Homo sapiens: one gene and its partner. The protein of the gene in region 1 interacts with the protein of each later gene in a pairwise test. Each region holds a gene or a part of one and is shown on either strand. Other genes may lie near its edges. The genes, in order: VPS13C and TMEM132D.

Region 1 (3,822 bases):
AGCTTTTACTGTGTATTAAAAAAATGTCCTTTACAAGGCATTGGGGATATGTAGCCCCTGCTGTCAAAAAACTTAATGACATATGCGGGAGAAAGAAAGAAATCAGTGATTACAGCTTTCAGTGCTAGAGGCATGGCCAAGATGCAGTTGGGAGCACAGGCATGGGGCCTTTAATTCAGACCAGGACATCAGGGAAAGCTGTGTAGAAGCAGGACTATTTGATTTGAGTTTTGAAGGGAGATTAAATAGATGGGGAGCATGGAAAGGTTTATCCAGACAGAACTGATAATATGCACAAAGGCAGAGGTGTGAAAAAATCCTTTAAGATTTAGAGGGGTGGCCGGGCGCGGTGGCCTCACGCCTGTAATCCCAGCACTTTGGGAGGCCGAGGCGGGCGGATCACGAGGTCAGGAGATCGAGACCATCCCGGCTAAAACGGTGAAACCCCGTCTCTACTAAAAAATACAAAAAATTAGCCGGGCGTAGTGGCGGGCGCCTGTAGTCCCAGCTACTTGGGAGGCTGAGGCAGGAGAATGGCGTGAACCCGGGAGGCGGAGCTTGCAGTGAGCCGAGATCCCGCCACTGCACTCCAGCCTGGGCGACAGAGCGAGACTCCGTCTCAAAAAAAAAAAAAAAAAAAAAAGATTTAGAGGGGTGGTCACATATGGCTGGAGAGAATGGTGTGGTGGCGTTGTAAGACTGGAAGCATTAATTATAAGTGACATTAATAAGACACGGAAAAAAAGTTGACAAGTAAGTTAGGAAAACAATACATACTAGATCCTGCTTTTGATGATATAATTATATCCCTTTACATTTTAAGTAAGGATTGTGAGAAGTGAACAATAAAGGAATACAGTTAACTTATTTAACCTAGTATTTCTCAAACTTTGGGAGAATCCTGGCTAGCTGGTTGAATAGGCACTAGGCCACAAAGAGCTCTGCACATTAAGTTAAAGAGAGTTTCAATTTTATCTTGTGGGATAAAAAAATTATGGGAAGTTGATGAAGATTTTAAACATAAGAATGTCATACTCAGATTTGGTTTGTAGAAAAATTATGCTGGTGGCAGTGTGGAGTGTAGGCTGAGAGGGCGTTGGCCGTAGAAGATGTCATCAGTGTAGAACTAAGGCACAGTAATAGGAAGTGAGGGAAGTGAGCAAAGAAAGGCACTGTCCAAAGATAATAAGAGGTAGGATTTATAGATCTTGGGGTAAGTCAAAGGAGAGCTGTGATTTTGAGTCTTCCAGCTTTAATAAGGCAAATGTATATCTTTTTCTTCCTTTTTTTTTTTTTCAGAAGATCTTGTTGCATACCGATATTTATGTGTATCTTGACAAGGATCACACACTTTGGCTTAGTTAATGTAGCTGTTTTTAAAATGAAGAATTTGTTTACATTGCTATACTTGTCTATTCACATAACACTGTTTTGCTCTGAATTGATCAGCTTAACTTTAGATTTTGACTACTGACATATAACATTAGTTATTTAATTCCAGATAACCTGAGTAGAAGTCAGTGTTGCATGATTACTTGGCTTGACACATAATTTTGTGTTCTCTCTTGTTTTTCTTGGTTACGAATTTATTCAAAATTTAAATTAGTTACTTTAATTTAAAATTAAAATTTAATTTAAAAATGTCACTTATAATTAATGTATGTCACTTAAAATCATGTATGTATATATTCTCATCTGGGAAAGAATTTATTATAAATATTTTTCTGCTTTCTTTTTTAAAGATTTCACCCATAATTCTTAATACTGTGTTGACAATCATGGCTGCATTGTCTCCAAAAACAAAAGAAGATGGATCCAAAGATACGTCTAAGGAAATGGAAAATCTTTGGGGTATCAAATCGATTAATGATTATAACACTTGGTTTCTTGGTGTTGACACGGCAACAGAAATAACGGAAAGCTTCAAAGGCATTGAACATTCACTGATAGAGGAAAATTGTGGTGTTGTTGTAGAATCCATTCAAGTTACCTTAGAATGTGGCCTTGGACATCGAACTGTACCTTTATTATTGGCAGAGTCTAAGTTTTCAGGAAATATTAAAAATTGGACTTCTCTAATGGCTGCTGTTGCTGACGTGACACTACAGGTATGGCCACATCACTTAATACCTTCAGAGACTTCTTGAAAGTGCGATTTTGGAATTAAGATATACACTTTTCTTGTTTGTGCATGGCCACTATGAGTACATATGTGAATAGATAGTGTGTTCTGACATTTAATTTGTCGATGTATTGTTTTTTGATAATTATTTTTTAAAGATTGATTTGCTAAATAATTTATGACAATAGAGTAAGAGAGTAAAGGAAAATACACTCTATATATTGTTAGATGGGTTTTGAAAATGGCTAATGATATATAACATTGATTACTTAATAATTTCCCTATTGGTTACAGAAATATGTAATTAAAGCCAAAGGACTGTCTTATAATTTTGTGTGTATCTTTCCAGGTGCACTATTACAATGAGATCCATGCTGTCTGGGAGCCACTGATTGAGAGAGTGGAGGGGAAGAGACAATGGAATTTAAGGCTTGATGTAAGGAAATCTTAAAATATCTTTGGATAGAATGATACTATGCATATTCATTCATAGTTTTTATTTCAGTGATTCTTAAGATGTGGTCTAGGATCCTTGAAGCCCTTTTAAGGGCTCTGTCCATGAGGTCAGAACTCTTTTCATATGTCATTTTCATTCTCATTCTCTCACGAGTGTATAGTGGAGTTTTCCAGAGACTAATGAAGGTGATACTGCAACAGATTGAATGCAGAACAGAAACGAGAATTTATCTGTCTTCCCTTAAGGCAGGCAGTAAAGAGATATATGTGTATGTTCCTCTTCTCACTGTATTTTTAAAATAGTTATTTTTGATTAAAAATGTTATTTATATTAGCATGTAATTTTTATTTTTAAATGAATTTTTAATTTTTTTTCAGTTTTAATTGTTAATAGAGTACATATTGGTAGATAAAACATAAATGAAGCTCTTTAGTATACTCAGTGATTTTTAAGGGTGAGACCAGAATATTTGAGAATTGTTAATGAACTCTTGTGTGTTATCTTTTTATGTTGTTTTTTGAGAACACCTCAGAAACCTAGATACTGAAGCACATTTTTCTTGATTAAAAGGAACTTGAGTCATATATTGTTAAGAAATTGTCGTAGCATACTTCTTTGGGGCAGCCTTACTAAGGAGTCAGGCACTGAAACTGACTCCACATATTCTTTTGTTAAAGATGAGTCACTTAACCTGTGTTCCAATTTCCTCTCAATAAAGAAGTAATATTTTTCTGACCTGCCTTTCTCTGGCATAGGGAGGCTAACAAAGAATGTTTTACAAGGCTTTTGAAATACTACTAGAACAGAAGCTGATGGAATCTGATGGCTAGTTAAGTGTTTATTATATTAATATTACTTATTTGAAGGTGTTATTGGTTTAAAAAATAGAAGGAGAGAAACATTTCCAGGTGGCACCTCTAATAGGGATCAGTTTAGACTTCAGGGTCCTCTTAGATTGCTCGTCAACACATAATCACCAGTTGGGTGACACTGAATAAATAGCTATGCTCTGAGGAATGCATAAGAGACAAATATTGTAGCTGGCTTTGAGTAATTTCATGGCGTAATTCTAAACTTTTCCCCATGCTTGGACTATACCCTGAAAGAATGAATGCTGAACTCCATGAAATCAAAGTGAAGCATGGTATATTTTTGAAAATAAGACTTTTGCGAAGCATTACTATAAAGTGATCAGTTTAGGAGAACTGAACTCCAGCATTTTTATTTTATTATCAACTGGCTA
Region 2 (3,822 bases), on another chromosome or scaffold:
TGATGTTTGCCGTTCCAACAGCTAACACACTCTTCCGCTTGGATTTCTGGCAGGATTCACTAATAACCATTTCCACCTTGACCAGGGTGCCTTGTCCTTCTGTTTCCGCAGCAATGATAGGCCACTTGAATTTGGGGTCTTGGTGGATGGAGACTACCTTCTCATCCAAAGATGTGGCCATCAAGGAGAAGTCTTTCCCATCGTAAATATCCAAGGGCGTGACTGAGCCATCACTGAACTGGACCCAGCAACTGATGGCTGCTTCCTATGGAGAAAAATATGTAAGTTAATCAAATGGGCCAAAAAGCTCATTGAGCCCCAAGTCTTAGTACAGTAGACACACAACGGCAAAACTATTGCTACAAGAACAAAGACAAACCTTTCAAACAGTGTAGAAATAAGCGATAAGAAGTACCAAGAGTATAAAAGAAAATGAATTCTCACAAAGATGCAAAAAAGCAAAATAAAACAACAACAAAATGACAAAACAGGGCCAGTATTAAACAATCCGTAAGAAGATTTGCTTTTTTTTTTTTTCTCCTGTAGGTGTTGTTATAAAAGGAAGATGGGCCCTTGGGCTGTTCAGAATCAACTTCTGAACAATAATAAATTGCACGACAAAGGAAATTACTGGTTAGTGGAATCATTTACAAGTGTTACACATTCAAATGAAAAATATTTATTACATTATTTTTAAGTTGTAATACTGAGTCTCCACTGATTACTGGCAATACAGATAAAAGCCTCTGATCTAGATGAGGTCCCACTGCAGGGCTGCAGGCTGTGGTTTTGCCAGCCCTGCCTTTTCTGGGTCTGCAGGAGTGGATCTGTCCTGGCCTCAGGCCATAGTCTTGGCTTGGAGGGAGGAGTTAAGCCTGACAGCAGGAGAGGGAGAAGCATCTTGATTGGAGAGTCTTCATCTCTTCCTCCACCCAACCCAACTGGAGGAAACTGGAAGACCAAAAAGCAGCCAGAGCTTGTTTTCACTTTGTTGATTTAGACCAACTTTCTTTGCAAATAGTTTGACCAGGCAGATCATTGGAGATAACCTCCAATTTCATGCCAGCCTTTAATTTTAGTGAAGATGACATTATGCTTGACAGCAGTGGCAGATCCATTGCTTCCTCCCTCCCTCCCTCCCTCTCAGAGAACCTGCTCCGCCCCAAGCCCGAGATGATGAACAGCACTAGGTGGCCCATGACCCTGCCCGCTGGGCCACAGCAACAGCTGATTGAAATGAGACAGCTGCTGCCATTAGAGCCATCAATCTCAGCAATGCTGAGCCAGCCAGCATTACTCTCTCTCTCTCGAACTTGAAACCAGAAAGACAAGACTGACAAAGTTATGCTTGGGAAGATGTGTAGTGGGGGCACATATAAAATTGGGGAATGAAGCCCTCTGATGGACTATGTATAAGCAAATGTTTGGGCATGGCATTTATCCATAGGAAGACAATAATGAATTAGACCAAAATAAAAACACAGGTGAGAGAGAGAGTGGGCATGAAAGTGCTGACCTTCCCTTTCCTCCAAGGTCTTGCAGCTGGGTTCTGTGAGATCCCTATAATCCTCATAACACATCCTTTGTTATTTAAGCTTTTGCTTGAGTGGATTTTTTTTTCTCTTATGACCTACTGGCCCCTGACCATGACAGAAGTAATTTTACACAGTTGTTGTTTAGTCTTTGGAAGTAAGAAGAAAGTCTCCTCAAATGTGGCTGGTGGCCTCTGCTCTTTCCTTCAGCTCAGCCAAGAAATACTTATTCTGTTAGACACTGGCTTGGACTACCTGCTAAGCGGATAACCTTGCCAAGGCACAGTGCAAAAGCTACTGGACATGACACTGACTTACCAGGTTCTCTCAATCGGCCATGAAATCTGAGCAGAGCATTCAAACGCACAACGGAGTTCTTGAAACTACCACTGTCAGAGCCAAGTTGCAGGCAGGGAGTAAGAGCCCTGCAAACCAACCATGGAGCAAATCTCAGGGTAGCGTGTTTAGCTCTGCATGTCAGGAACGGATTAGCCTTCTGGCCTTCTTCTAGCTGCATCTTATCCCTTCCTTAACGCCTAGCTGGTGGTCCGCTGATGTTATCACCCACAAAGACAGAGAAAAGCCTCAGGTTATTTCTTCATTGCTATCTGTAACTTGCCTCTCGGCTGGCATCCTTCCTTGAGAAAAGGAGGTTTGCTTTGGCCAAGAATTCGATTCTGTTATTGGGATCAACCACTTTCAAGTGTTTTCTAACCCAAAACTCTGCAAACAAAGACTGTAGTATAAGGACTAGGAGATTAGCTCATGCCTGAGAGGGGAGCATTATGTGACAGGTGCAGGCTGGGAAAATGGGAAGGCTCTTTGTGCCCCTTAGCAAGTCCAGTGTGGCACTCCTGCCTCCTCTGAACATGGCCACAGCCGCAGCTGGTGCATGAAGGCAGGGAAGGCCTGGTACCTCACCCTGCCGAGGAAGAGTGCGCAGAAAAGGCTCCTGATCCAGAAGGGAAGCAGTCAGAACAATGTCCCATATGGGCCGGAGGGATTCCAGCTGCCCCACATGAGGATGATCCCTTTTCATGGGGCAAAAGAACTAATGACCTGCAACCACCATGTTTTGTTATTAAGCAAGCTTCACCCAAATTCCTATGTTCTAAGAAATAATGTTTATCCACCTCTAATGAGGGAGAACTTACTACATTCAAAGGTCCCCTATAACAGTCCCCTTTGTAAGCCATTGTATCCACATACAAACACATGCATCACACACATACACACAACACACATACACATATACATGCACACAGGCACCTATACAACACAAGCATACACACAACAGAAAATACACAAGACACACATGCATACGGACACACATAAAGCAAAAACATATATGACACAGACCCACAACACACACACATATGCACACATACAAACAACAAATAGACACATGCAATGCATACATACAACACACGATACATTCACAACACACATATATACATGCATACAGGTGCCTATACAACACAAGCACACATGCAACACACAACACAAAACAAGCAACACAAAATACTGACACAAGACACACACATGCATACACAGACACACAAAAACAACATATATGTACACAACACATAGACACACAACACACATATACATATGCACACAACACACAAAACACACTCTATTAGCTCACACTGGTTCCAAATAAAGTAAAAGAAAATTGTGACTGACATCTCCATGAATTCTCTGTTTCTGCCTTGAGCTGAACAATGAATGGTCTGGAAGCGATCTCCCGCCACAGGCTCCCCACTCAGCAGGTCTGTCACCCTCCGCTCCAGCAGGACCTTGGCATCAGGCTGTGCACCTGCTCTGAGCCTGCACGTGCCCTCATGCCCTCATGGAAGCAGGAAGCGTGTGGAGAGCACAGGTGACCACCTGCATGCACTTGCACTATGGTGGATGAGGGGTGGGCCTTTCCTCCAGGGCTCCTGCCCCTTAATGGCTTCTCATTTTTCACATGTTGCAATCCTTATGTATATATGTATTTATTTTTTTCATCTCTGCATGGGGGAGCTGGGAAACATGAGGCAGAGGAGTCACCTGCTTCAGAAGAGCCCTTTGCAGATGGAGAAACAAACGCCCGATATATGATCCCACTCTATTGTGCGACCCGCCTGGCGTGGTGCCTGCCTGGTGTGTGATCCACTTGGTGAGGGACCCTGCTGAAGTGTGTCTCAAGCCCTCCTCCATACCTGTTTTGGCCTCTGCAGAAGTTCCTGAGCCACTGCAGTGGCAAAGATGGCCCTGTTGCTTCCTGGGCTGAGCTGCAAGGAGA

Evidence for each region.
Region 2: the proteins of VPS13C (region 1) and TMEM132D interact in a two-hybrid assay, tested with the Homo sapiens proteins (one large-scale study listed by BioGRID).

The regions. Positions count from the first base shown.
Region 1 is NC_000015.10:61,920,683-61,924,504, reverse strand, and holds part of VPS13C (intermembrane lipid transfer protein VPS13C), read left to right. Parts: intron 1-1,742; coding exon 1,743-2,108; intron 2,109-2,471; coding exon 2,472-2,558; intron 2,559-3,822. UniProt on the Homo sapiens protein: Mediates the transfer of lipids between membranes at organelle contact sites. Necessary for proper mitochondrial function and maintenance of mitochondrial transmembrane potential.
Region 2 is NC_000012.12:129,074,795-129,078,616, forward strand, and holds part of TMEM132D (transmembrane protein 132D precursor), read right to left. Parts: coding exon 3,740-3,822; intron 282-3,739; exon of another isoform or gene 266-281; coding exon 1-265. UniProt on the Homo sapiens protein: Regulate neuronals morphology via inhibition of the WAVE regulatory complex (WCR), a complex that controls F-actin cytoskeletal dynamics.